Regions from separate parts of the Homo sapiens genome. Here region 1 is linked to region 2. The links come from fine-mapping of genetic effects on gene expression. A gene starts in region 2. The other region holds a variant in brackets. All regions are shown on one strand. Distances are from middle to middle.

Region 1 (12,698 bases), 79 kb after region 2:
CTGTAATTTTCTTTTTTTTGTCTGGTTCTGGTTTTGGTGTCAGCATAATACTGGCCTTGTAGAATGAGTTTGGAAGTATTTCCTCCTCCTCTATTTTTTGGAATAGTTTAAGTAGGATTGGTATTATACTTCTTTAAATGTTTGGTAGAATTCAGCAGTGAAGCCATTGGGTCCTGGGTTTTCTTAACTGAGAGATTTTTTTCTTAAGGCTTTGATCTTGTTACTTGTTAGTAGTCTGCTCAGGTTTTGGATTTCTTCATGGTTCAATCTTGGCAGGTTGTATATGTCTAGAAAATTGTCAATTTCTTCTAGATTTTCTGATTTATTGGCATATAGTTGCTCATAGTAGCCACTAATGATCCTTTGAATTTCTGCAGTATCAGTTGTAATGTCTCCTTTTTCATCTCTGATTTTATTTATTTGTATTTCCTCTCCTTTTTTCTTAATCAGGAAAAAGGTTTGTCAATTTTGTTTAACTTTTCAAAAAACAAATGTCTTGTTTCATTGATCTTTTGTATTGCTTTTAAATTTCAATTTTATTTCTGCTCGGATCTTTGTGATTTCTTTTTTTCTACTAATGTTGGGTTTGGTTTGCTCTTGCTTTACTTATTTTTTAAGATGCATCATTAGATTGCTTATCTGAAGTTTTTCCTGTTTGTGATGCAAGCAGTTATAGCTGTAAACTCCCTCTTTGTACTTGTCTTGCTGCATTCCATAGGTTTTTGTATGTTATGTTTCCATTATTATTTTTTTCAAGAATTTTTTCAATTTCCTTCTTAATTCTTCATTGACCCACTGGTCATTCAGGAGTGTATTGTTTAATTTCCATGTATTTGTATAGTTTCCAAAATTTCTTGTTATTGATTTCTAGTTTTTTTTTTTTTTTTTTTTTTTTGAGATAGAGTTTTGCTCTTATTGCCCAGGCTGGAGTGCAATGGTGCGATCTCAGCTCACCACAACCTCTGCCTCCTGAGTTCAAGTGATTTTCCTCCCTCAGCCTCCCGAGTAGCTGGGATTACAGGCATGCACCACCATGCCTGGCTAATTTTTGTATTTTTAGTAGAGACAGAGTTTCTCTATGTTGGTCGGACTGGTGACAAACTCCTGACCTCAGGTGATCTGCTCACCTCAGCCTCCCAAAGTGCTGGGCTTACAGGCATGAGCCACTGCACCTGGCCAATTTCTAGTTTTATTCCATTGTAGTCAGAGAAGATGCTGGATATTAGTTCAATTTTTTTTGTGTGTGTGAGAGGGAAGCATTATGTTTCTGCCTATCTAGGACACGGAGCTGGTGCAGCCCAGTTGCCCTTCACAGAGACATCAGTGAATCTTACTAGGAGCTCCTCTCAGCCATACTCATCAAATCCCGTGCCTGTGCTCATCACTGAGGTATTTATGGGCAAGCCAGCTTTGCCCAGCTGTGGCCCTGCATCCCCACAGAACAGGAAGCTCAGGGAACTGGGTACTCCAATGTCCAGCCTATCACCTTAAACAACAGAGAACATCTCACAGTAAACAAAGATCCACTACATACCCATCTGCTTGTGCCACAGCTGGTTCTTACCTGTAAGTGCCATCTACTTGCTTGTAAGTTGAGTCAGACAGTTTAATGTAAAATCTGCCGACAGAGGGCATAGGGCTGTAGAAGAAAAGCCAAAAGACCTTGCCCAATATACTCTACAGTCACACCCCATAGGAAGGGAGGGAAGAATAAAGGAAAAGAAAAAAATAATAGGAAAAGAAAAAATTCTATCCACAGAAAAATAATCTAAAAAATTAAAAGTGGCAGCCTCTCCAAATAAGAAGGAACCATCATGAGAATTCTGATACCATGAAATATCTGAATCTTGTAAAGCACCAAAAGATCATGCTAGCTCCCCAGAAATGAACCCTAAGCAAAATGGGGACTCAGAAATGACATATAAAGAATTCAAAATATAGATTGCAAGGAAGATCAGTGAAATTCAAGACAAGAATGAAAATCAACACAAAAAAACTACTAAAGCAATCTGGGAAATGAAGAAAAAGATAAACATCTTTAAAAAAATCAATCAGAATTCTGGAATTGAAAAATTCACTTAAAGAATTTCAGAATACAATGGAAAAATTTATCAATAGAGTAGACCAAGCTGAAGAAAGAATTTCAGGGTCTGAAGACCACTCTTTTGAACTAACCCAGTCAGATAGAAATAAAGAATTAAAAAAATGAAGAAAGGGTTTGATTAATATGTGATTATGTCTAGCAACCAAACCTATGAATTATTGGCATTCCTGTGAGAGAAGATAAAGTAAACAACATGGAAAATGTATTTAAGGGAATACTTCAAAAACTTTTTCAAGAAAAAAGAGCAACAAAGTCTGGATGACAGCACATCTGTTTGCATCATAATTTACTGAATATCTGAGGACCACTTTTGAGCTCTACCACTCAGAAAAAAATTCTTTTGAAAATATTACTGCTGCTTGACAATGCAGCTAATCATGGCACCCATGATCTCTGATGGAGATGTATCAGGAGATGTTTTCATTACTGACAACACAACATTTATTCTGCAGTCATGAATCAAGTAGTAATTTCAACTTGTAAGTCTTATTTGATATGTACAGTTCAGAAGGCTACACCTGCTAGAGATAGTCGTTCCTCTAATTAATGTGTGCAAACTAAATTAAAAACCTTTTGAAAAAGATTAAGAACATTTGTAATTCATGGGAGGATTCAAACTATCAATATTAACATGAATTGGAAGAAATTGATTCCAACCCTCATAGATGACTAGGAGGGTTTCAAGACTTCAGTAAAGAAAGTAAATGCAGGCCAGGTGCAGTGGCTCACACTTGTAATCCCAGCACTTTGGGAGGCTGAGGCGGGCAGATCACGAGGTCAGGAGATCAAGACCATCCTGACCAACACGGTGAAACCCTGTCTCTACTAAAAACATTTACAAAAAATTATCCAGGCATGGTGGTGGATGCCTGTAGTCCCAGCTGTTCGGGAGGCTGAGGCAGGAGAATGGCATGAACCCGGGAGGTGGAGCTTGCAGTGAGCCAATATCGCGCCACTGCACTCCAGCCTGAGTGACAAGCAAGACTCCGTCTCAAAAAAAAAAAAAAAAAAAAAAAAAAAAAAAAAAAGTAAATGCATGCAGATGTGGTGGAAATAGCAAGAAAATTAGAAATGGAGCTTGAAAATGTGACTAAATTGCTGCAATCTTATGATCAAACTCTACTGGATGAGGAGTTGCTTCTTACAGATGAGCAATGAAATTGTTTCCTTGACAATGAATCTACTACTGTTGAACATTGTTAAAATGATGAAAAAAGGATTTAAAATATTATATAAACTTTGTTGGGGAAGAAGTAGCAGGATTTCAGAGGATTGATTCCAATTTCAGGAGCAGTTTTACTGTGGATTAAATGTTATCAAACAGCATCACATGCAATAGAAAAATTTTTCATGAAAGGAAGAGTCAATGTGGCAAGCTTCATCACTGTCTCATTTTAAGAAATTTTTACAGCCACTCAAAGATTCAGCAAACACTACCATGATTAGTCAGCAGCCATCAACACTGAGGTAAGACCTTCCACTAGCAACAAGATTATGACTTGCTGAAGACTCTAATGATCATTAGCATTTTGTAGTCATAAAGTATTTTAAAATTGTTATGCACACTTTTTATATGTAATGCTATTGCACACTTAACCTACAGTATAGTGTAAACATAACTTTTTTTTTGAGGTAGGAAGTATTTATTGAAAATTGCATAAAACACTGCATTTTAAAATGTAACATGATTTCATTTCAAATATAATTTTAACAGATATGGAATTGTAAATTTATTGACAATTATTAGGAAGTGCCTTCTTGTTGTATATTGATTGATGATATTATTCTTTCTAGTTTTTTTTAGTCATTATTATTATACTTTAAGTTTTAGGGTACATGCGCACAATGTGCAGGTTTGTTACATATGAATACATGTGCCATGTTGGTGTGCTGCACCCATTAACTTGTCATTTAGCATTAAGTATATCTCCTAATGCTATCCCTCCCCACGCCCCCCACCCCACAACAGTCCTAAGAGTGTGATGTTCCCCTTCCTGTGTCCATGTGTTCTCATTGTTCAATTCCCACCTATGAGTGAGAACATGCGGTGTTTGGTTTTTTGTCCTTGCGATAGTTTGCTGAGAATGATGGTTTCCAGTTTCATCCATGTCTCTACAAAGGACATGAACTCATCATTTTTTATGGCTGCATAGTATTCCATGGTGTCTATGTGCCACATTTTCTTAATCCAGTCTATCATAGTTGAACATTTGTGTTGGTTCCAAGTCTTTGCTATTGCGAATAGTGCCGCAATAAACATATGTGTGCATGTGTCTTTATAGCAGCATGATTTATAATCCTTTGGGTATTTACCCAGTAATGGGATGGCTGGGTCAAATGGTATTTCTAGTTCCAGATCCCTGAGGAATCACCACACTGACTTCCACAATGATTGAACTAGTTTACAGTCCCACCAACAGTGTAAAAGTGTTCCTATTTATCCACCTCCTCTCCAGCACCTGTTGTTTCCTGACTTTTTAATGATCGCCATTCTAACTGGTGTGAGAAGTTGTCTCATTGTGGTTTGGTGTGAGAAGTTATCTCATTGTGGTTTGGATTTGCATTTCTCTGATGGCCAGTGATGATGAACATTTTTTCATGTGTTTTTTGGCTGCATAAATGTCTTCTTTTGAGAAGTGTCTGTTCATATCCTTTGCCCACTTTTTGATGGGCTTGTTTGTTTTCTTCTTGTAAATTTGTTTGAGTTCATTGTAGATTCTGGATATTAGCCCTTTGTCAGATGAGTAGGCTGCAAAAATTTTCTCCCATTTTGTAGGTTGCCTGTTCACTCTGATGATAGTTTCTTTTGCTGTGCAGAAGCTCTTTAGTTTAATTAGATCCCATTTCTCAATTTAGGCTTTTGTTGCCATTGCTTTTGGTGTTTTAGACATGAAGTCCTTGCCCATGCCTATGTCCTGAATGGTATTGCCTAGGTTTTCTTCTAGGGTTTTTATGGTTTTAGGTCTAACATGTAAGTCTTTAATCTATCTTGAATTAATTTTTGTATAAGGCATAAGGAAGGGATCCAGTTTCAGCCTTCTACATATGGCTAGCCAGTTTTCCCAGCACCATTTATTAAATAGGGAATCCTTTCCCCATTGCTTGTTTTTCTCAGGTTTGTCAAAGATCAGATAGTTGAAGATATGTGGCATTATTTCTGAGGGCTCTGTTCGGTTCCATTGGTCTACATCTCTGTTTTGGTACCAGTACCATGCTGTTTTGGTTACTGTAGCCTTCTAGTATAGTTTGAAGTCAGGTAGCGTGATGCCTCTGGCTTTGTTCTTTTGGCTTAGGATTGACTTGGTGATGCAGGCTCTTTTTTGGTTCCATATGAACTTTAAAGTAGTTTTTTCCAATTCTGTGAAGAAAGTCATTGGTAGCTTGATGGGGATGGCATTGAATCTATAAATTACCTTGTAGCCCATTTACATTTAAGGTTAATATTGTTATGTGTGAATTTGATCATGTCATTATGATGTTAGCTGGTTATTTTGCCTGTTAGTTGATGCAGCTTCTTCCTCACATTGATGATCTTTACAATCTGGCATGTTTTTGGTGGCTGGTACCAGTTGTTCCTTTCCATGTTTTGTGCTTCCTTCAGGAGCTTTTTAAGGCAGGCCTGGTGGTGAGAAAATCTCTCAACATTTGCTTGTCTGTAATGAAATTCTGAGTTGAAAATTCTTTCCTTTAAGAATGTTGAATATTGGCCCCCACTCTCTTTTGGCTTGTAGAGTTTCTGCCAAGTTATCTGCTGTTAGTCTGATGGGCTTTCCTTTGGCGTAACCTAACCTTTCTCTCTGGCTGCCCTTAACATTTTTTCCTTCATTTCAACCTTGGTGAATCTGACATTTTTGTGTCTTGGGGTTGCTCTTCTTGAGGAGTATTTTTGTGGTGTTCTCTGTATTTCCTGAATTTGAATGTTGACCTGCCTTGCTAGGTTGGGAAATTCTCCTGGATAATATCCTGAAGAGTGATTTCCAGGGTGGTTACATTCTCCCCGTCCCTTTCAGGTACAGCAGTCAGATGTAGATTTGGTCTTTTCACATAGTCCCATATTTCTTGGAGGCTTTGTTCATTTCTTTTTACTCTTTTTTCCCTAAACTTCTCTTCTTGCTTCATTTCATTCATTTGATTTTCAATTACTGATACCCTTTCTTCCACTTGATTCAATCGGCTACTGATGCTTATGCATGCATCATATAGTTCTCATGCCATAGTTTTCAGCTCCATCAGATCATTTAAGGTCTTCTCAACACTGTTTATTCTAGTTAGCCATTCGTCTAATCTTTTTTCAAGGTTTTCAGGTTCCTTACCATGGGTCAAACATCCTCCTTTAGCTTGGAGAAGTTTGTTATTACCGACCTTCTGAAGCCTACCTCTGTCAGTTCATCAAAGTCATTCTCCATGCAGCTTTGTTCCATTGCTGGCAAGGAGCTGTGATACTTTGGAGGAAAAGAGGCCATGTGGTTTTTAGAATTTTTGACTTTTCTGCTCTGGTTTTTCCCCATCTTTGTGGTTTTATCTACCTTTGGTCTTTGATCATGGTGACCTACAGATGGGGTTTTGGTGTGCATGTTCTTTCTGTTGGTTAGTTTTCCTTTTAACAGTCAGTTCCCTCAGCTGCAGGTCTGTGGGAGTTTGCTGGAGGTCCACTCCAGGGCCTGTTTTCCTGGGTATCACCAGCAGAGGCTGCAGAACAGCAAATATTGCAGAACAGCAAGTATTGCTGCTTGATCCTTCCTCTGGAAGCTTCATCTCGGAGGGGCACCTGGCTGTGTGAGGTGTCAGTCAGCCCCTACTAGGAGGTGTCTCCCAGTTAGGCTACATGGGGGTCTGGGACCCACTTGAGGAGACAGTCTGTCTGTTCTCAGAGCTCAAACACTGTGCTGGGAGAGCCACTGCTGTCTTCAAAGCTGTCAGACAGGGATGTTTAAGTCTGCAGAAGTTTCTGCTGCCATTTGTTTAGCAATGCCCTGCCCCCAGAGGTGGAGTCTACAGAGGCAGGCAGGCCTGGTTGAGCTGTGGTGGGCTCTACCCAGCTTGAGCTTCCTGGCTGCTTTGTTTATGTACTCAAGCCTCAGCAATGGTGGATGCCCCTCCCCCAACCAGACTGCCACCTTGCAGTTCGAACTCAGATTGCTGTCCTAGCAGTGAACAAGGCTCCGTGGGCATGGGACCTGCTGAGCCAGGCACAGTGTAGAATCTCCTAATGTGCCATTTGCTAAGACCATTGGGGAAGCACAGTATTTGGGTGGCAGTGTCCTGATTTTCCCAGTACAGTCTCTCATGGCTTCCCTTGTCTAGAAAAGGGAAATCCCCCAACCTCTTGTGCTTTCTGGGTGAGGCGATGCCCCACCCTGTTTTGGCTTGCCCTACATGGGCTGCACCCACTGTCCAACTGGTCCCAATGAGATGAACAAGATACCTCAGTTGGAATTGCAAAAATCAGCCATCTTCTGCATCAATCACCCTGGGAGCTGCAGACCGGAGCTGTTCGTATTTGGCCATCTTGGAATGAGGGGCCTCTATTTTTATTATTTTTTATCTTTAGATATTAACAGTCTGATTGTAAAGTTTATATGGAGAGGCCAAAAAACCCAGAACAGCCAATGTTAAGGAGAACAAAATCAAGTGATTAACCTTGTCTGATTCAACTTCAAGACTTATTATGAAGCTGCAGTAATCAAGACAATGTGAAATTGGTGAAGAAACAGTCAAATAGATTAATGCAAGTGAGTAAAGAGCCTGAAATAGATAATCAGAAATACAGCCAACTGATCTTTGAAAAAAAAGCAAAGGCAATTCAATGGGGAATAATAGTCTTTTCCACAAAGACTAATGGAGTAACTGGAGATTCACATACAGAAAAATGAATCTGGAAATAGACCTTACATCTTTAACGCAAGTTAACTAAAAATATATTATAGATCTAAATACTAAATGCAAAACTATGAAACTCTGGTAATATAAGGTAGGAGAAAATAAAGATGACCTTGATCTGGCAATGGTTTTTAAAATACTACAATGAAGGCACAATCCATGAAATAAAGAATAACTAAGCTGGCCTTTATTAAAATTTAAAACTTCTACTCCACAAAAGATAGTATCAAGGGAATAAGATGACAAGACACAGACTGGGATAAATATTTTTCAAAAGATATATCTGATAAATGATGGCTATCCAAAATTTTTAAAATTCAACAATTAGAAATCAGACACCTTGATTAAAAAAATGGGCAACGGGTCTGAACAGACACCTCACCAAGAAGACATACAGATACCAAATAAATATATGAAAAGTACTAATCATTAAATGTCATTAGGGA[A/C]CTGCAAGCTAAAACCCCGATGACATACTATTACACACTTATACACTGGCTAAAATTCAAAACACTGATAGAACCAAACACTGGCAAGGATATGCAGCAAGGAGAACTATTAGTCATTGCTGGTGGAAATGCAAAATGGTACAGACACTTCAGGAGACAGTTGGGCAGTATCTAATAAAACTAAAATATGTTTACTATATTATCTAGTAGTTGTGCTCCTTGGCATTTGCCAAATGAATTGAAAATATATTTCCACACAAAAATCTGCACATGGATGTTTATAGCAGTTTTATTCATCATTGTCAAAAATTAGAAATCACCAAGATGTTCTTCAATAGATAAATGAATAGACAACATGGTAAACCTATACAATGAATGTTATTTAGTGTTAAAAGAAATGAACTATCAAGCCATGAAAAGACATGGAGAAATTTTATACATATTAGTAAGTTAAATCTTAAAAGGCTACATACTGTATGATTCCAAACATATGACATTCTGGAAAAGGCAAAACTATGCCAACACTGCAAAGATTATTTGTTGCTAGGGCTCGTGAGGAAGAGAGGGTGAACAGGTAGAGCACAGAGGGTTTTAAGGGCAGTAAAGCTATTTTATATGATACTACAATGGTGGATACATGTCATTATGCATTAGTCAAATCCCATAGAATGTACAACACAAAGAATGAACCCCACAGAAACTATGAGCTTTGGTTGTTGATGTGTCAATGTTGGTTCATTGATTGTAACCTATGAGAGTTCTTGATTGTGAGAGGCTGTGTGTGGGTGCAGGGAAAGAGGCATGTGGTAATTATATACTTTCCACTTTCCACTTAGTGTTGCTGGAAACCCCAAACTGCTGTTAAGAAATACATTTTTCTAAAGCCTACTTTAACCCACCATTCTAGTCAAGCTGAGGTTTGTATTACCCAGTGACTGTGGAGGGCTTAATGTTGATACTCCCCTGATCACTTGGACTGAGATGTGAATTCTATGAGACGGGATGTGATATGTCACTGAACTGGGAGTTGAAAAACTGTGATTCTAAGTCTTATACTGAGGCATTGTGATACTTTGTCTCACTGAGTCAACAATTGCTCATTTAAAAAAAAAATCAATTCCTGTTTAGAATAGTTGATCTCAGAGATCCCTTTTGTCTTCAAATTATCTATAATTCTTTCATAGTATAAACTGAAAGATCTAGGGAGGAGCCTCAACTTAGCAGAAGAGAGGAGGAGCAGAACTGGAACACCTAGCTCTCAAGGAATGAAATGATTATTCTAAAGAGAGCAACCAAGCTTATCTTACCCAAACTAAGGTAGTATATTTCTGTTAGAGTTTAAAGTTACGTGAGTCAGGGACCAAGTTATTGCTTTTCTTTGCCCTGTATAAAGGGTTCTCCAAGGCCTTGGACTCACCCAAGTACTAAAGGTTATAAAACCAAACTCTTCTGACCCCCAATCTAGTCAACTTGGGCTGTAATTATTAATGAAATTAATATTTATTTTGAAAATCATTTACTAGACTGAATCACGAAATACTGAACCATTGTACACAATCAGTAAATATCTGTGGACTCAATTGAACTGAATGTTTTGCTTGAAATGAAACCTTCAAGATGCAGGGCTTATGAATTCTAGTCTCAGCTCTAGCACCAGCAGACACCATGTTCTTGGCTACAGTACTGAATCTTCAAGGCTCAGCCTCCTCATTCCTGAGATGGGTCAATTTTATTGTAAGCAAAGGCAATTGAGAGATTCCAAAGGGATATGAGGTGTGAGAATTCTCTCTAAATGGGGTTAGAATCCCTGTTAAAAATGACCAGTGAAACATTGTGCAATTGTGTCTTAACATAACTTACTTTTTCTTAATAAGAGAACTGGAAATAACCTCATTAGGAAATTTAGAACAAATACGATGATATCTTTAAAGAAAATGGCTTTGTGTAAGTATTGTCGTTAGTGATCTAGTAATGTGTATCTTTCTGGTTGTATTTAGACCTTCAACTCAAATGTCAGCTCCCGTTAAGGTCTATACATTGTGGTGGTTTTGTGCTGTGGGTCCATTTAGTGATTTCCCTACCTCCCATCCTCTATTAGATTCACAACTGTTGTTCTGCCCATAATTTCCTATGCTTGCTTTGCATTGTTACATTTTTTTTTGAAAATCAGAAAGCAAAATCAATATAAAGCAGCCATGTCTGGAGGAGACCAGGAGGTCAAGAAGCCTTAGTTTCTCAAGCCCTTAGCACCAAATTCTCTGAGATCAGCTCTTCCTTCAGTTACACTGAGCGTTTCCCCTCTGCAGTGATGGAGAAGGGAGAACTCTTATTTTTTCTCATGAGCATCTCTGGGGCTGTTTTCCTTAGATAAATAAGTGGTTCTATTTAATGTGAAGCCTGTTTTATGAACAGGATGAATGTGGTATATATTCAGAATAACTAATGTTTGGAAGTTGTTTTGTTTTGCTAAAACAAAGTTTTAGCAAACGATTTTTTTTTTCAAATTTGTGTCTTCTGTTCTCAAAGCATCTCTGATGTAAGAGATAATGCGCCACGATGGGCATCAGAAGACCTCAGCTCAAATCCCAGTTCTGCCAGCTATGAGCTGTGTGGCACCAACAGGTGTCCTGTTCTCCCAGGGTCTCCCTTTTCCCATTTGAAATATAAAAAATAACAATTCCTGCCTTCACGTGTTTTTTTAGGGGGTTAAATGGTAAAGGTGTTTATATCTGCTAAGGTAATTTACTTGATATATGTTTGGTTATTGAAGATATATGAGTTATGTTAGCTATTTCATGTTTAGGCTGCTGTATTTTTAGTAGGCTATATTAAATAGAGGATTTCATTATAAAGGACAAAGTCTCCTAATCTTCGATATAGGATTGACATACTTTTTAAATATACAAGGCATAGAATATGGCCATTTCCGTTAAATCATAAATTCCCAACTGGTTATTAATCTAAGAATTCAGAATTTTAAGTAATTGTTTTTGCATCAGATTGTTTACTTCAGTGCTCTCAATTATGACGGTGCATTGGAACCACTTGGGTTAACATTTTTTTGTTTTTATTACCAATACCTAGGCTTCAACCTAGTACAATGAAACCAGAATGTACAGAGTGGGCACTGGGACGAAGGAGAACAAGACCAAAGGACATTTTATTTTTATCTCTATCAGTGGGTCAAAGTCCTTTCAGAAGGAGCATATAGTGGGCCTAGGTGATTGGCCACTTTATCCATCAAAGAGGCACACACACTTAATTAGCATGGAGTGTTATAAAAAGCTTGGAGTGCAAGCTCACGGTTGTCTTAACAAGAGGAGAAGGCTTCAATGGATCCTTTTGTGGTCCTTGTGCTCTGTCTCTCATGTTTGCTTCTCCTTTCAATCTGGAGACAGAGCTCTGGGAGAGGAAAACTCCCTCCTGGCCCCACTCCTCTCCCAGTGATTGGAAATATCCTACAGATAGATATTAAGGATGTCAGCAAATCCTTAACCAATGTAAGTATGCTCCTTCAGTGGCTTGCAAAAGGTAAGTAAATTCACCTGTATTTTTTAAATAAAGTATATCCCTAGAGGTACAATGTTACAAGAGATCATTGTAAAGTAAAATACTTTGAAAGGCTTTTGTTGCCTTTTCCAGTCTGTCAGTGTCAGAAATAGTGGAATGAAATAATATATTTTGTTATTAGAGAAAGATTTAGGTCTTTGCATGTTAAATTCAGAATAACAAACTGTCAATAGTTTGAAATGTTGTGTTCCTTCTTTATTTCATAGCCATTTGCTAGAATTTTTGGCTGAGGGTAAACAGTAAGGGAAGTGTTTGTTATTAGAGATTTTATTAAATAAGTCCTCTACTATATTAGCCATGTGTTTTATTCAGAATAGCCGTGAAAATTGAACTTCTCTGAAGAAATAATTTATGCCTGTTGTAAAGGAAGCAGCTGTGGGTTTAGGACCAGCAAAAGCAGATAAGCGGTAGATAAGAAGTTATAGACTTCAATTATTAGATCCACAAACTAATGTTTTAATTAAGCTATAGCTACAATATATAAACCCCAAAATGACCTTAGGGTTTAGTAATAGTAGAAAGAGGGTTAGAAGATGTATAAGCATTACGGTTTTTTCTTGAGTAAAAGATGTTTTAACAGTGTTAATATGATATGTGAATACACCTCATTGTGTAGTTATTAGCATATACAGAGAGTAAAGGGCTGCGATTAGTATATTAAGCCTTATAAGCATGATGGTATGATCAGATCAAGAGAA
Region 2 (18,087 bases):
GGAAAATTGATAGACTCCTGAAGTAGGAGAGTGAAAGGGCTGGTACTGGCTTTCCCAGCTTAAAGCAAACTGATTCTGGTGGTATTTACTAACATGTATCAAAAAAAGTATTTGCCAGGTCAATAGCTGCATACCAGTTATCAGAGGATGTCTTAATTTTGCTCAAACAATGAAATAATATCTGGAACAATGGCTTTAGATGGAGTTGCCACCTGGTTAAGATTGTGATAATTCACTGTCATTCTCCAGATCCATTTGTTTTCTTCATAGGCCAAATAGGTGAGTTGAGTGAGGATGTGGTGGGAATCACCATCACTGCATCTTTCAATTCCTGATGGTGAAAATAATCACTGCAATCCTTCCAGGAATGTGGTATTGCTTTTAGTTTCCATTTTCCTAGGTAGAGGAAGTTCTAGGGACTTCTACTTGGTCTTTCCTACCATAATAGCTGCCACTATATAGCTTGGGGAAGCAATTTGGGAATCCTACCAGTTGCTGAGTACATTTATTTACATTATGCATTCTGGAACAGGGGAAATAAACACAAGATGATTTTGAAACCCTACTGGGCTCACTGGGAGACAGACCTGAGCTAAACCTCCATTGATCACCTGACTTCCATAAGACTTTACTCTGACTGGTGGATCAAAGTGGTATTTGGGGTCACTCAGAATTACTGTCAATTTAGATCCAGTTACAGTAACTTCATTCACTGTGGTAAAACATCAGACTTTGGGAAAGTCTGGAAGAAAGATTCACAGTATACATTTTTTGGAATTTAGCAGGGCAATTCTTTAAGGGGAACTGGATGCCTCTTCAACGGGTTCTAGGTCTGCAAACTGTCTCAAATCCGGGAATAGATTGAGGGGTCATGACTCAATGTTTGGGTGATTCAAGTTAGACTTCTGTTCACTCACTCTAGAACTCTCCTAATGTCTATACAGACCAGCTGAGAATTTGGTAGACCGGTCATCCATTCCTCTTGTAGGGACACTGTGACCAGTGCCATAAGTAGATAAGAGTCAGATTATTCTGATTATTGCTTTAACTCCACTGTCCATTATGATAACTACGAACGTTTCGTCTTTGGTGGCTAAGTGCTACAATTTGGCCCTTGTTAACCTGGGATTCAATTATCCTCATTGCATTGAAGGATTCTGGTTCAGTTCGCATTGTAATTTCTGACTTATAGAGAAGAAAAACCACAGAGTTCTTCAAGGATGCTGGGGATCGCTTTACAAATTTATTTCTCATAGCTGTGCTGAATGGTGATCCACTGGACCCCACTAGGGATGTGTGAGCAGTTCTGATAAGATAAATTCACTCTGACATTTGAGTCTAAGTCTTTGAATCCCTTCCTCTACAGTGTACCAAGCAGTTCTGGCACATTAACTTTGTTTAGTTTAGGCCATTTTTTATTCTGTGTTTCAGCCAAGCAACCACCAACCAAACAAACTGTTAGGCTTTTTCTAGCCCATCAAGCTACAACATTGAATTTGGAATTTCTGCTTAGTGAACTCATGTCAATAAACTGGCCTGATCTAACTTTGTATTCCATTCACCATTATCCCACACTCTTAGTTTCCACTCTTACACATATTCCCCAGATTACTATCTGCATGAATTGGAAATATCATGCAATCATTTTGGTGTTTAGGCTACCCCTTCATGGGTTACCCTTCCAGGCCTGCTGGGGCTTGAGTCTAATTGTAGGTCTAGAAGCAAAGAAGGTTGGTTGGGGCCCTCCAGTGCCATACAAGGCCTCAAGGGAGGCCATTACAGGTTCTTCAGGCAAAACAATAATAACCTCCACAGACAGGGCTGAAGGGCTGCTTCTACTGGCAAAGGAGACACAACAGATTTTAAGGTTCAGTCTCCCCAGCTGCATTGAGATCTGCTCTGTGTGCTCCTATTCCAATGTTCACAATTCCATTCCTTCCAAGTCCAAGCCCTCACTTTAGCAGAAGACACCCTGAAATGTTCGGAATTCAATTTGTGTTGTAATTTTGCCACTTACAGGATGAAAGTCTGGGTTTGATTTTCAGCAATCTTAGCCTTGTAGCTACAGGAGATAAGGATTTCTTTCTCTTTTTTTTTTGAGATGGAGTCTCACTTCTGTTGCCCAGGCTGGAGGGCAGTGGTGCGATCACAACCCGCTGCAGCCTCAACCTCCTGGGCTCAAGTGATCCTCTCACCTGAGCCTCCTGAGTAGCTGGTACTGTAGCACACTCCACCACAACTGGCTAATATATATATATATATATTTTGTAGAGATGGGGTTTTGCCTTGTTGCTTAGGCTAGTCTCAAACTCCTGGGCTCAAGCGATACACCCTACTTGGCCTTCCAAATTGCTGGAATTACAGCCATGAGCTACTGCACCCTGCCTTAAGCATTTCTTTCAAGGCAGACATAGACACTTTCGGGTCATTTATGTGGAGCTTATGTGGAAATTGAAGCCCTGAGTTGAGAATTTGAAGCCCTGAGATCATCCTTTTCTATCCCCACTTTCTCCAGAGCAGTTAGGAGCAGCCAGCCAGTCATTATATTCATTATTTTTACTAACATGTCCTAAGGTATCAAATATGTGGCACTCAGACCTTGCCCTTTATAAATATTTAATTATGAGATTCCAATGGCAGTATCTTGCATATTTCTATTGCCACATTATGCCATGACCAATGATTTCATTATCACTGGAAATAAAGTCATTAGTGCCTTTAAATCTAATCAGATAAGAGAACCAATTTCAGACAGACCAGAACTAATTTAGAAAACTCATCCTTAAGATTCTGTTCCTTTAGAACCACTCTACATACTAAAATCTGTGTTATTGAGGTTTCTTCAGAGAAACAGAACCAATACGAAACACACACACACACACACACACACACACACACACACACACACGGATTGGCTTACTGTTTGTATGGGCTGACAAGTCCAAAATCTATAGGGCAACCATGGAGGCTGGAAACTCTTCGGCAAAAACACGATGCTGTAGTTCCTAGGTGGAATTCCTTCTACTTCTGTAGAAAGGAGCAACACAACTAGAGGTATAAGGAGTCCTAAGTTCCCACTTATATGGCATTAGTCAATAAAATGGGTCTAAAATTTTGGGGGATTTCTAACAATATCTTTGTGGAGCTGTAAAGTGAAAATATGAGTTTGACAATAATATCTCATTGTATTTCTCAAGTTAAGGTGGCAGGTTTTGCTCTTAAAGGCCTTTCAATTAATAGAATGAGCCTTGTCCACATGATCAAGGATAATCTCCTTTGCTGAAAATCGAGTGACTATAGATGTTAACTATATCTACAAAATACCTCTACAGCAATACCACATTACTGCTAGATTGAATAACCTGGGTACTACAGCCTAAACAAGTTGATGCATCAAGCTAACCATCACAAATGAGAATAATTTAAATAATATTGATTTACTATTACTATCCTAAAAATTATATTACATTCAGGTTATTTCAAAATTGCTGCAAGAGTAGATTTTTAAATATTCACACCATACAAAAATAAGTAGGTGAGGTGACGGATATGTTAATTAGCTTGATTTAATCATTCCACAATATACATATATGTCAAATACATATATAAAAATATTGCATTGCACCCCATAAATATATGCAATTATTATTTGTCATTTAAATACTTTTATGAGTGGTTTTACTTTCTTCACTTTGCATTTTTTAAAAAAAATTAAGAAATTTTTTTAATTAAAAAAAGTGCAAAGTGAGGAAAGTCCCCTTGTCCCTTTTGTTATGTGTGAATACAGAGAGAAGGAGCCATGTATGAACCAGAAAGTGAACCCTCACCAGACACGGAATTTGCCAGCACTCCATTTTTGAAAAATGCAAAGTGAACAAAGTAAAACCACTCATATAAGAAAGTATTTTACACTAAAAATAAATATATAGATTATAGAAATACTTATGAAGAAAAAACCATAGACTGTCCCACGGGCCGGGCAGCTGCTCATCTCATAGGGGACCCATTTGAGCATAAACTTCCACAGAAAAACTACAGGAAAACTAAGAAACAAAAACCTGTCTAGTGCAGCTACATATGATTCTGGTGACTGTTGGCCTTATTACTAGTAGTCTGGGTGCTTTCATTGGTTTATAAATGGAGCCCTATTATAAGGGTCTATTATGGAGCTCTTCAAATAAGACATTGTTACCTTTTTCTTTTCTTCTTCTTTTTTTTTTTTTTGAGACAAGATCTTGCTTTGTCACCCAGGCTGGAGCGCAGTGGCATGATCATAGCTCACTGCAGTCTCGACCTCCCAGGCTCAAGCGATCCTTCCATCTCAGCCTCCTGAGTAGTTGGGTCCACATGTGCATGCCACCATACCCAGAAAATTTTTGTATTTTTAGTAGAGACAGGGTTTCACTATGTTGCCCAAGCCGGTCTCTAACTCCTGGGCTCAAGCGATCCGCCTGCTTTGGCCCCCCAAAGTGCTGGGATTGCAGGTGTGAGCCACTACACCTGGCCATAGGCCATTGTTTCAACCAAGCATGGTAAATATGAAGACCCATATTCACTCAAATGTGTATGCCCTTAGAAGGGACACCATGATCCCACATCCCAGATGACATCACCTTGGCCCAGGAGTTCACTGCTGGAGATTACATCACCTCAGATGACATCACTCAAGTCCAAGACCTAATCATTGGAGATGACTTCACCCTTTTATCAGGGATGATTTCATCCTAGATACTAAAACCTCTGCCCCAGCAACACCCATGGATTATCTTTCTCAAGGCACAAATTGAACACAGGACATTTATCGCTTTTCTTTCTCTGGTATTAGAGGTCCTATTATGTTTCTGAGCTTGTTGACTGTTTAGCCTATGATCCTGGTATTCTCCTTGCTGTCTGCCAAAATGTACATCCTTAACACTCCTATGCCTAAAGGAAAATCAGGTAGAGGTTTAGAGGTTTGCTATTGACTGAAAGTTTGTGTCCCTCCAAAATTCATATGTTGAAACCTAATCCCCAGTGTGATGGTATTTGAAGGTGGGGCCTCTTGGAGGTGAATGGGATAATGCCCTGATAAAAGAGGCTCCAGAGAGCTCCTTTGTCCCTCCTGTTATGTGTGAACACAGCAAGAAGTAGCCAACTATGAATCAGAAAATGGCCCCACAGCAGATGCTGAATCTGCCAGCACCCTGATCTTGGATTTCCCTGCCTCAAGTGCTGTGAGAAATAAATTTCCATTGTTTATAACTCATCTGGTCTAAGGCATTTTTGTTATAGTAGCCCAAATGGACTAAGACAGGGTTAATACTATCTGCCATTCTAAAAATTAGAGGAGATTATGGCTTTCCCCAGGGAGCACCTGCCTCATCTCAGTTAACCCCTTGGTCCCTGGAGAGAGAACCATGCACTCCTCCATGCCTTCTCCCATTAGCACTTCTCCAGCTTTCACCATGGCCTTCTGCCCTGCATCTCTAACTATAACCCCCTTTTCCCCTTAGTTACACACGACAACCACATCACTTTACATATACTTTACTGACTTACTGGTTCATACTCTCCAACAATATAACTGCTGGACCTGCCACCTAAACTTGAGAAATACAATGAGATATTATTGTCAAACTCATATTTTCACTTTACAGCTCCACAAAGATGTTGTTAGAAACCCCCCAAAATTTTAGACCCATTTTATTGACTAATGCCATATAAGTGGGAACTTAGGACTCCTTATACCTCTAGTTGTATTGCTCCTTTCTACTGTCATAACACAATATTTTCTGTGCTGTTGAGGGCAACATATGCCCTACTTTTTAAAAGTCCCCACTATTATCACCTTAAAGTTCCCTTAATGTGATGTCAAACCATCAGAGGACAAATCATTCTAATTGTGCTTTTAATTTTTTATGTTTTACAAAGTTTTAACATCGGGTCCTCACTGATCAGGGAGAGATTGCTTCTCCCTCTTGGGGTTAACTAATTCCTAGAGATAGTAAATGACTTTCCTGTGAGCATGCCATGCAGACCAAGCAATCCTGAGTCCATACTCTCACCCATCTTCTCTATCCAGCTCTTACACTCCAAGACACAATATTCCTGTCCTAATCATCCCAGGGCAGCTAGGGTCAGTTCCTACACCCCAGAGCCTGCTGAGATAATTCAAACTAGCCAGTCCTAAACTTACTCAGCTTACCTACTTGGTCTTGCCCGTTCCTTCCCACAGAAACTGCAACAAAGGCTTTTGCTCCTGCTTCTCCTATGCCCCTCTTCTGGCTCCTGACCAACATGGGTGCTTCCCATGTGGCCTGCATCATGTGGGGAATCTTGTTTGTAGGGAATGGTGAGTAAAAAGCTCTTCCTTCATGACAAGAATTTCTGTGTCTGTGTGTCCTACCATACCTGATTAAAACCAATCTCAGGCACATTTTATTGCAAGTAGTTTTTAAGAACAAATGGGTTAAGTTTTCTACATGTAAGTTCAAGCCTTTGTGAAGAGGGAAAATTTTACTTTTTCCTTTCCAATATTCTGATTTGTTTTCTCTTTTCTTTGTCATGTTGCACTTACTAAGTCCTCCACCTAATGTAGAGTACAAGTGATGAGAGCTTACCTTGTTCTTAAAACTGTTGGGAAATTTTTCTATCCTTCACCATTAAAGATAAAGCTAGTTCAGACTCTTTATAGATAAACTTTATTACATACAGGAAATCCCCTTCTATTTTAATTTTGCTGAGAGTTTTTTTCCCCCATAATGAAATGGTGATGAATTTTTTCAAATGATTTTCTTGAGTATATTGAGGTGAATTTATGCTTAAATTTATCATTTAGTTAACAAAGGTGGACTTCAAATATGGATTTTAAAAACTTAACATGCCTTTCTGTTGATAAATACCATTGGTTATGTTGTCTTGTTCTTGTCACATATTGCTGGATCAATATATGTACCTTTTGTTAACAATTTGTATAAACATGCTCTTGAGACATACTGGTATGTTATTTCATATGATGCCTTTGCCATGTTTGGTGTCAGGGTGGGAATGGTGTTCTACAACAAATCAGGAAGTGTTCTTTCTTCCTCCTCTTCTGAGAGAGTTGTAAGGCTGGTGTTTTTACTTCCTTCAATTTGATAGAATTTGTGAGGAAACTCATCTAAAGTTGAAGTTGACTTTGTGTGGTCAATTTTGATTATAAAATCAATTTCTTTAACCAACATTGCTTTCAGATTTCCTATTTTATCCTGTGTCATTTGTGTGGAGTTTAATACTTAATGCATCTTGTGGCCTGTCCTCAATTGAAAAGCTGTACATGTAGAGAACTCACTTCTTGTAGTTTCTGCTTCTCAGGTAATCCCCTCTAAGATCTGCTTGATTTGAGTGGCTTTTGAATGCATTCTATGAACTATTTTCTGATGAATAAGTTGTTCAGATTTAATAATTGTTATCTGTGAGAAAGTGAGGCTGGACTAGTGACTGCACCATTATTAGAAAGTGAAACTCTTATACTGTTATCAGTGAACAGAAATGAGAGGGCCCCTCTTGCCTACAACACCCTTTTTGCTCAACAGCCCCAAAGAGTCTGCCCTTAAATGAGTCACTGGGAATTAGGCTGGGCAGCTCCGCCGCTAATTCCAAAGACTATTTATATTGGAAGCTTCCCAAGCCCTCTGATAGGCATTGATATGATTTGGATATTTGTCCCACCCAAATCTCATGTTGAAATGTAATCCCTAATATTGGGGATGGGGCCTGGTGGGAGATGTTTGGGTAATGGGGGTAGATCCCTTATGGCTTCAGGCTTGGTGTTGTCTTTGTGATAGTGAGTGAGTTTGTGTGAGGTCTGGTTGTTTTACAATGTGTGGCAAGCCCCCCAACTCCCACTCTCCCTTCTGTTCTCATTTTCACCCTGTGAGATGCCAGATCCTCCTTTTGCCCTCTGCCATGATTGAAAGCTTCCTGAGACCTCCCCAGAAGCCAAGCAGATGCTGGCGCCATGCTTCCTGGACAGCCTGAAGAGCTGTGAGCCAATTAAACCTCTTTTCTTTATAAATTACCCAGTCTCATGCATTTCTTTCTTTCCTTTCTTTTTTTTTTTTTTTTTTGAGACAGGTTCTTACTTTGTCACCCAGGCTGCAGTAAAGTGGTGCCATCTTGGCTCACTGCAACCTCTGCTTCCAGGGTCCAAGTGATTCTCATGCCTCAGACTCCCAAGGAGCTGGAATTACAGGCACGTGCCACCATGCCTGGCTAATTTTTTGTATTTTAGTAGATATGGGGTCTCGCCAAGTTGCCCAGGCTGGTCTTGAACTGTTGGACTCAAGCAATCCACCTGCCTTGGCCTCCCAAAGTGCTGAGATTACAGATGTGAGCCACCTCACGCAGCCTCAGGTATTTCTTTATAGCAATGCAAGAACTGCCTACTTCTATGTTGCATCCACATACAGGTAGGAAACCTGAGACTCTGTGGTGGTCAAACAGTCTGCAGTTTCTACAGTCTCATTACAAACTTTGATCTGGCTGACACCAAGGATCTGTGACACAGTTCTGCTGAGAAGTCTGACAGCTGCTTTGCTGAAAATGTTTGTGGCTCTGGACCAGGCTCAGAATCAGTACAACCTCATCTGTCATTTGTAGTGTAAGAAGGGTCTGAGCCTCAGACCCAGGACTTGTTGCCTGAATTCCTCAGCTGTGCTTTTTTCTCCCACACCTTTCCACATGCCAACCCTGGGGATCTGCTTAACTCTGTTTTTGCCCCCTGTGGCTGCTGAGCAGAACTACCTCTGTACTTTGTCCTCAAGCAGCAAAGTCCCACACCCAAGCTTTTGTGGAAGATGCCAATGATAACATTAGCAGGTGAAGCCCAAAGACAGCATTTTGGCAAGGAGGTGATATTGGGATAGGATAATTTTTCTTATGAAGTGTTTGAGGGCCCCAGTGGCCATCAGGTCTCCTGATGAGTTGGAATAGAGGCAAAGAGTCACAAATCTAAGTCTTCCTCCCTCTTTAGTGAGAATCCACAGTAGGTGCTTGTAATCCCAGCTGAGGCAGGAGGATTGCTTGAACCCAGGAGGCAGAGGTTGCAATGAGCCAAGATCTCACCACTGCATTCCAGCCTGGGTGACAGAGTGAGACTCTGTCTCAAAAAAAAAAAAAAAAAAAAAAAAAAAAAAAAAAAGGAAAAGATGAGCCTGGAATATCTTGCTGTGCCAGGAAGTAAGGAATTGCTTAAGGATTGAGGGGGACATGACAAAAGGACACAGAATCCAGTCATTAGAAGATAATTTGAGCACCAAAGTAAATAATGTTATAATGGATTATAACCCATTGAACACAACTGAATTCGTGATTCCGTAATGATATAAATAAATACATGAATACATTAAAAACTTGATGAGGAATATATAGTTATGTAGTATCAAGAATCTGCCCACAAAGTATTTCTTTTTTTTTTGAGATGAAGTCTCGCTCTTGTCACCCAGGCTGGAGTGCAATGGTGCGATCTTGGCTCAAAAATCAAAGTAAACATCAACCATCATGGAACAGATTGAAATTATTTGTCACCAGATATGATGCAATGAGAAGTCAAAGCATCATCTGTGATATTCCTGCCAAATCTGCATAGTCAGGATCTGATTATGAAGAAACATCAGATAATCCCAAATTGAGAGAAATTTTTAAAACTCCAAACCTATGCTTTTCAAAAGTGACAAGGTCAAGGAGGTTGAGGAAAGACTGAGGAACTGTGTCAGGCTGTGGTTGACTAAGGAGACATGACAACTAGTTGCAAAATGTGATTCAGGATTCTAAACTGGATTCTGAAATGAATACAATGAATATCATTGGGACTTATTGAGGAAACACTAATGGAAATGAGGATTAGATGGCCCTAATGCATCAATGTTAATTTCCTGAATTTTAAAGTTATATTTTGGTTATATAGTCAAATTGCCTTGCTTATAAGAGCTATATACTAAAATATTTCAGGTTTAGAACTTCAGGTCCAAAATTACTCTCAAATGTTCAAAATAGAGAAAATTCTCTGTTTGTACCTCCAACTTTTTATTACATTTATAGTTATTAAAATTATATAAATATAAAATACATATGCATTTGTGTATATATGTGTATATATAGATATGCATATATATAGATATGCATATATGTAGATAAGTGATACACATAAAACCAATAATGGACTCATATCTAATCTATGCAAGCCCTTCACAAAAGATTTGATATTGCCAAAGGACATTTGAAAAAGCACCCGGCATCATGAACCTTCACTGAAATGCAAATTAAAACTACAATAAGATATTATTACACACACATCAAAATGGTTAAAATGAAAAAAGACAATATGCTAAGGGTTGGCAAGAAAGAGAAGCAGCTGGCACTCTCAGTACAATTGTAAATTTATTAAACCATTTGGATAATTCTTTGGCAGTCATTAATAAAACTGAACACATGCACATGCAGCAATTATGCTCATAGTTATAGCAACAGAAATCCTTATATTGGGATAACAATGTATTAGAGTAATAACAGCATTATTCACAATAGCCACAAACTAGAATCAACTCAAAAGTCCTTAACAATACAATGAAAAGATAAATTTTGGAATTGTTATAAAATAAAACACTCTAAACTAACTTACGTACTGCTATTTGTGACAACATGAATGAATCTCACAAACACAAAATTAAGTGAAAATACTAGATACTTAAAAATACATAATGTGATTCCATTTATATTACATTTGTATGCCTCACAAACAGGCAAAACTAACCTATGGCATAATACTGGAGTTATCTAGTCGGGGAGGAAGGTAGGAGGAGACATAAAGGGACTTCTGGGGTCCTGGCAAAATTATTTTTCTTGACCTGTGTGTTGATTACACAGATATGTTCAATTCATGATAATTCATTGAGCTATATACATTTAGGATGTTTCCAACATTCTCTTTGTATACTACACTCCAGTGAAAAGGTTTATTTAAAACGAAGCAGTTTGCATTCACAATTTCACCCAAGCTGAGGTTTGCATTACTCTCTCACTGTGGAGGGCTTCAGCCAGGTGCCCTCCTGACCATCCATTTGGGCAATGATAGGAAATCTCTGCAATGTGAGAATCACTGAACTGGGAATTAAAACCTGGATTCTTAAAAAATAAAGATTATGTACTAATGCACTAGCGACCGTTCACCTCACTTATTCACCAATTCCTTATTTCTAATAATAAAGTAGGGATTAGGCTGGTGGATCTCTGAGATCTCTTGTCTCTAATTATCTATGTTTCTTTCATTCTTTGAAAGGACCAGGCAGAAGTCTCAACAGAAAGGAGGAACAGAGACCCATTTTTCAAGAAATAAAGTGATTGTTTTAAAGAAAGGCATTGAGATCATTTTATCTAAAAGAAGGTAGTGCACTTCTTTTAGAGTTCAGAGCTATGTGAGCCAAGCAGTAAAATAACTATTTTTCTTTGTCTCAGATAAATTATTCACCAAAACCTCGACTGACTCAAATTCTAAAGGTTACAAAACCACACCCTAATTGTAATCAACCTATGTTGCAACTGTTGAGTTGGTTAATGTGTATTTGAAAGTCACTGATTATCCTGAGTAGTGAAATATTGCCTCATAGTACATGGTAAGTAAATGTTGGTGACTCTAGTTGAACTGAATTTCTTGCTTGGAGGGAATGATGTCAGAGTTAGGAGATAGGTTTCCAGCCTCAGCCCTATCATTTTCAGCCTCTGTGTCCTTGAACAAAATACTGAATCTCCAAGGCCCAGCTTCCTTACCTCTAAAGTGGAAATAATTTTACCACAGGCAAGGGTAATTGAGAGAATCAAAAGAGTTATGATGGGTATAAAAATTCTCTGTGAATTGTCAGAATCCCTGTAAACATGTTTGATAAAACATTGTCCATATGGGATTTGACAAAACTTAATTTTTCCTTACTGCAGTTAGAAATAACTGCACTAATCCAGTATTATTTCCAATAGCCAGGATGTAGAAACAATCTAAGTGTTCATTCACAAATAAATGGATGAAGAAATTGTGTTTTATATTTATATACACAATGAAATATTTTTTAAACTTTAAAAGGAGATACTGCCATTTGCAATGACATGGAATGAACCTGAAGGATATTATGCTAAGTGATATGAGCTAGATACAGAGGAAAAAAGATTGCATGATTTCACTTATATGAAGAATCTTTAAAAAGTCAAATACATAGAAACAGAGAGTAGAATGGTGGTTACCAAAAGTGGGAGCCAGAGGAAATGGAAAAAAGTGTGTCAAAGAGCCAAATTTGTGGTTAGATAGGATGAATAAGTCTAAAGATCTAATAAACAGCAAGAGGACTATAGTTAATATACTATACTGAAAATTTGCTAAAAGAGTAGATTTTAGGTGCTTATACCACAAAAAAGAAGTTAATTATAGAATTGATTAATATGTAAATTTGTTTAACCATAGTAATGATTCCACTGTTTATATGTCTACCAATGTTGTATACCTTAAATATATACAATGGAAATAAACAAATAACTGTACTAGTCATTTAGAATACCACAATGACATCTTTACAGAATATGCCTTTGTACAAGCATTGCCATTAGTGATCTAGAAATGTATGTATCATTTTAGTGATATATAGAGCCTCATGAGCGCTAAATGTCATCTCCAGTTCAGGTCTGCACAACTGTGTTTGTTCTGTGCCATGGGTCTGTTTAATGATTTCCCTACCTCCCATTCACCACTGAAGCACATGCCTGTTGTTCTGCCTATAATTCCCCTTCCTTGCTGTGCAATATTTCATTCCATTATTTCTGACACAGACCAAAAAAGCAATAGAAACAGCAGTGTCTGGAGGCAAGTGGGAGCTGGAGAAGCCATAGTTTCTGAGATCTTACCCACTTAATTCTCTGAGATTGGCTCTTTCCTCAGTTATACTGAGTAGGTTTCAGCTCTTCAGTGACAGAGAGGGGAGAAACCCTAGCTTTTATTTCTTCTCTTGAGAATGTACAACCCTGTTATTTTGTGAACAGTGTGGTGTAGATTCAGAGTGAGAAATGTTTTTAGGATTTATTTTATTTTGCTAAAACTGTTCTCAAGGCAGCTCTGGTGTAAGTGAGAATATACCACAGCGGGCGTCAGAAGATCTCAGTTCAAATCCCAGCCTGCCATTTATGAGCTGTGGGACACTGGACAGGTCATCTGTTCTCCTAGAGTCTCCCTTTCCCCATTTGGAAAATATGAAATAATATTCTCAGCCGTCCAGTGTTTTTCACGGGGTTTAATGGAAAAAGGTGTGTATGTTTACTTAGTTAATTGATAACCGGTTTAGCCATTTAAGATGAATGAGTTTGTTAGCTGCTTTATGTTTAGGCAGCTGTAATGTTAGTACTACATTAAAATATTTCAAAAGGATCTCATTTTCAAGGAAAATGATCTAGTGTTTGAGAAAGCATTATAGTGTTGCAGTCTTGCAGATCCTTAGCTCAGCTAGGTCCGAGTTGTCTTATGCAGGAAGAATTAGGCACACAGACACTGGAGAGTGAGTGGAGTAGAATTTATTAAGTGAAAGGAAAACTCTCAGCAAAGAGAGAGGCCCTGAAAGCAGGTTGCAGATTGCCACTTCACAGTTGAATACCAGGACTTTTATAGAAAAGCTGATGAGGCTGGGATACTTATTTGCATAAGGCGTGAATTCCTGGTGTTTCCACCCCTTCCTTCCATTGCGCGTGTGGGCTCTTAGTCTAAGCCACTCCATATTGATTTATTTCCCTTCCTGCGCATGTGTTAAAGGTAGGAATTTTTCACTGTGGGCATATTTAGGCAAGCTCCCTGTGCAAGTTCCCTTATCTGCACAAAACATCTAGTGTAAGTACTTGGGGTTTTTGTGGATTGGGCAATGACCTGGAAGGGTTGGAGGTTCTCTGGGGACCCTTCCCTTACTGCCTGCCTAATGCAAGCTGGCTAACTCCTCTCAATAGGATAAACATTATTTTATGTACAAGGAATATAATACACAGATTGCCCTCAAAGTCATATTTCCAACTGCTCATCAATCTAAAAATCCAAAATTTTGAATAATTTTTTGATGAAATAATTTATTTCATTGTTTCTCAATTTTGGCTGCACAGTGGAACCACCTGGGCTGTTTGAAAAAACCTAGGCCTAGCCAGGCACGGTGGCTCATGCCTGTAATCCCAGCACTTAGGGAGACCAGCCTGGCCAACATGGTGAAACCCTGTCTCTGCTAAAAATACAAAATCACCTGGGCGTAGTTGTGCATTCCTGTAATCCCAGCCACGCCAGAAGCTGAGGCAGAATCGTTCGAATCCAGGAAGTGGAGGCTGCAGTGAGTTGAGATCTTGCCATTGCACTCCAGCCTGGGCAACAAGAGCGAAACTCCATCTCAAGGAAAAACAACAACAACAACAACAAAATCCTGGGCTCTGCTTCAGACTAGTTAAACCAGAATCTCCAGGGTGGGGCACCGGAAAGAACAAGAAAAAAGAACACCTTATTTTTATCTTCTTCAGTGAGCCAATGTTCATTCAAAAGAGAGATTAAAGTGCTTTTTGCTGACTAGTCACAGTCAGAGTCAGAATCACAGGTGGATTAGTAGGGAGTGTTATAAAAGCCTTGAAGTGAAAGCCCGCAGTTGTCTTACTAAGAAGAGAAGCCTTCAATGGATCCAGCTGTGGCTCTGGTGCTCTGTCTCTCCTGTTTGTTTCTCCTTTCACTCTGGAGGCAGAGCTCTGGAAGAGGGAGGCTCCCGTCTGGCCCCACTCCTCTCCCGATTATTGGAAATATCCTGCAGTTAGATGTTAAGGACATGAGCAAATCCTTAACCAATGTAAGTATGCTTTATGTTCCTCCAGTAATGTACAAGGTGTATTTAACCTCACAATTCTTAAAGTTTTATTTCATTTTAAAGTGATAAATGATAATTGTATATATTAATGGGGTACAATATTACATTTTGATACATGTATAGATTGTGAATTGATCATATCAGGGTAATTAGCATATCCATCATCTCAAATATTTGTCATTTCTTTGTAGTGAGAACATTTAAAATCCTCTTTTTTAGCTGTTTTGAAATATACAGTACATTAATATTAATTATAGTCACCTTGCTGTCCAATAGAACACCCGAGCTTATTCCTCCTATCTAAGTGTAACTCTGTACCTGTTGACCAACGTATCCCCTTATTTGGCCCATCTCCACCTGCCAGCCTCTGGTAGCCACCATTCTAATCTCTACTTCTCTGAGTTTAACTTTTTAAGATTCCACATAGAAGTGAGATCATATATGATATTTGCCTCTCTCTGCCTGGCTTATTTAATTAATATGATGTTCTGTAGATTCATCCATGCCGTCATAAATAAGAATATTTTTTCCTCTTTAAAAGGCTGAATAGCATTTCATTGTACATATATGTCACATACAAAATCCATTAATTTATTGATGAACACTTAGGTTGTTTCCATATCTTGGCTATTGTCAATAGCACTGCAATAAACATGGAAGTACAGACATGTCTTCCACATACTGACTTCAATTCCTTTGGGTATATACTGGTAGTGGGATTGCTGGATCATCTGATAGTTCTATTTTTGTTTTTTTTAGGAACATCCATACTGTTTTCTCAAATCACAATGCTAATTTACATACCCAAGGTTCACTTTATTCCACATCTTTGTCAACACTTGTTATCTTTTTATCTTTTTGATAATAATAATATCTTATCTATGAGTTGTGATGAGTTATCTCATTGTGGTTTTAATTTGCATTTCTCTGATGATTAAATTTGTTGAGTATTTAAAAAATATATCTTGGCCATTTGTATGTCTTTTTTTGAAAAATGTCTACTCAAATCCTTTGCCCATTTAATTAATTAATTAATTAATTAATTAATAGAGACAGGGTTTTGCTCTGTTGTAGGATGGAGTGTAGTGATGGGATCATGGTCCCTGCAGCCTTGAGCTCCTGGGCTCAAGCCATCCTTCTACCTTAGACCCCCAAGTAGCTGGGGCTACAGGTGTATGCCACCATGCCTGGATAATTTTTTAATGCTTTGTAGAGATGTGGTCTCATTATGTTGTCCAGGCTGGTCTTGAACTCTTGGGCTCAAGCAATCCACCCACCTTTGTCTCTCAAAGTGCTGGAATTACAGACATGAGCCATTGCACTTGACCCCTTTGCTCGTTTTAAATAGAATTATTTATTTGTTATTGAGTAATTTGAGTTTCTAAGTATTTTGGGTGGTCAGAATCTCATTTGTCTAGTTTTGCTTTCATGGCCTGTACTTTTAGGATCATATCCAAGAAATCATTGCCTAGACCAATGTCATGGAGTTTTTCTATATGGTTTCTTTCAGTAGTTTTTAGTTTCAGGTCTTATGCTTAAGGCTTTAATTCATTTTGAGTTAATTCTTGTATAAGGGTGAGATTAGGATTCTCTTTTATTCTTTGCATATGAATATCCAGTTTTCCCAACACCTTTTGCTGAAGAGTGCTTTCCCCATTGTATGTTCTTGGCACCTTTGTCAAAAATCAATTGATTATAGATGTGTGGGCTTATTTCAGGGTTCTCTACGCTTTTCCTTTAATCAGTGTGTCTATTTTTATGCTAATGCTATGCAGTTTTGCTTACTATAGCTTTGTAACATATTTTGCAGTTCAGTGGTGTGATGCCTCCAGCTTTATTCTTTTTGATTAATTTGCTTTAGTTATTTGGGGTCTTTTGTGGTTCCATACAAATTTTAAGATTTTTTTTCTATTTCTGTGAAGAATGAGATTAAAATTTTGATAGGGATTGCACTGAATCTGTATATTGCTTTGGGTAATATGGACATTTTTCCACTATTAGTTTTTCCAATCCATGAACATGGGATATCTTTGCCTTTATTTGTGTCATCTTCAATTTCTTTCATCAATGATTTGTAGTTTTCAGTATATAGATCTTTCTCTTCCTTGATTAAATTTATTCATAAGTATTTTATTTTTTGATGCTACTATAAATTAATTGTTCTCTTAATTTCTTTTTTAGATATTTTGTTGCTAGTGTATAAAAATGCCACTGATTTTTGCATGTTGATTTTTTATCCTTCAAGTTTACTGAATTTGTTTATCAGTTCTAGCACTTTTGTACTGAAGTCTTTAGATTTTCTACATATAAGATTATTTCATCAGGAAACAGACAATTTCACTTCATCCTTTCCTACATGAATACATCCTTTCCTATACGAATATTCCTATATGAATATTTTCTGTCTTTAGTCTAATTGCTCTGACTAGGACTTCCAGTACTCTGTTGAACAGAAATGGTCAGAGGGGGCATTCTTCTCTTATTTCTGATCTTAGAGGAAAAGCTTTTAGCTTTTCACCATTAAATATGATGTTAGCTGTGGGCTTGCCACATATAACCGTTAATGTCACATAGAAACTTCTGTATTACTGGAGGCCAGTTATTAAAGGTTATATGTTATAGGAACATTCCTCAGCATTCCTCCTGTACCAGCAGAGGCTGATTATTAAAGTATGCTATTGTAAAGCAAATACTTCCTGTGGAGTATGTTTTTCTTTTTTGTCATTGTCAGAAATAGTGGAATAAAATAATGCATTTTGCCAGAAGAGAAACATTTCAAGTGGTAAGGTAGAATCAAAATGATAAAGGCCTGCTGCTTTCTTTGCTTCACAGTCATTTGCTATATTTTTTTGCCTGAAGGAAAATGGTAGTGGAAGTGTTTTGTGATTAAAGATTTTGAGAAGTCAGTCACTGTATATGCTATGTATTTTGCTTAGATTAGCCATGATCATTAAACGTCTTAAAAAAGCAAATCATGCCTGATGTCAAAGAAATATCTATGAGTTCATCATAAACATAAACGAATGAAAGAAAGAATTAATTAGTCAGGGCCATCTGGGTGGTAACAGAATATTTATGGCCTCTGTACAAAGCTGCTGTCTGTGACCTATGAGTGTATAGCATGGAAAACATTTTTCCTCTGTGAGATGCCACACATCCTGATACTATCTCTGTTGGATCCACTCTCCTTCTGTGGTGATTATACCAGTGGATC

Evidence for each region.
Region 1: its variant is fine-mapped to the expression of CYP2C18 in lung (TOPMed, PIP above 0.99).

Annotation. Positions count from the first base shown.
Region 1 is chr10:94,750,944-94,763,641 of GRCh38, forward strand. It overlaps CYP2C19 (cytochrome P450 family 2 subfamily C member 19), which reads left to right and starts at 11,738. Exons shown (of 9, transcript NM_000769.4): 1 at 11,738-11,930. The coding sequence starts at 11,763. It also overlaps the pseudogene MTND4P19. RefSeq lists enhancers at 6,989-7,283, 10,006-10,032 and a promoter at 9,798-11,761. The variant A/C (reference allele first, on the strand shown) is at 8,431.
Region 2 is chr10:94,669,133-94,687,219 of GRCh38, forward strand. CYP2C18 (cytochrome P450 family 2 subfamily C member 18) reads left to right here and starts at 14,597. Exons shown (of 9, transcript NM_000772.3): 1 at 14,597-14,855. The coding sequence starts at 14,688.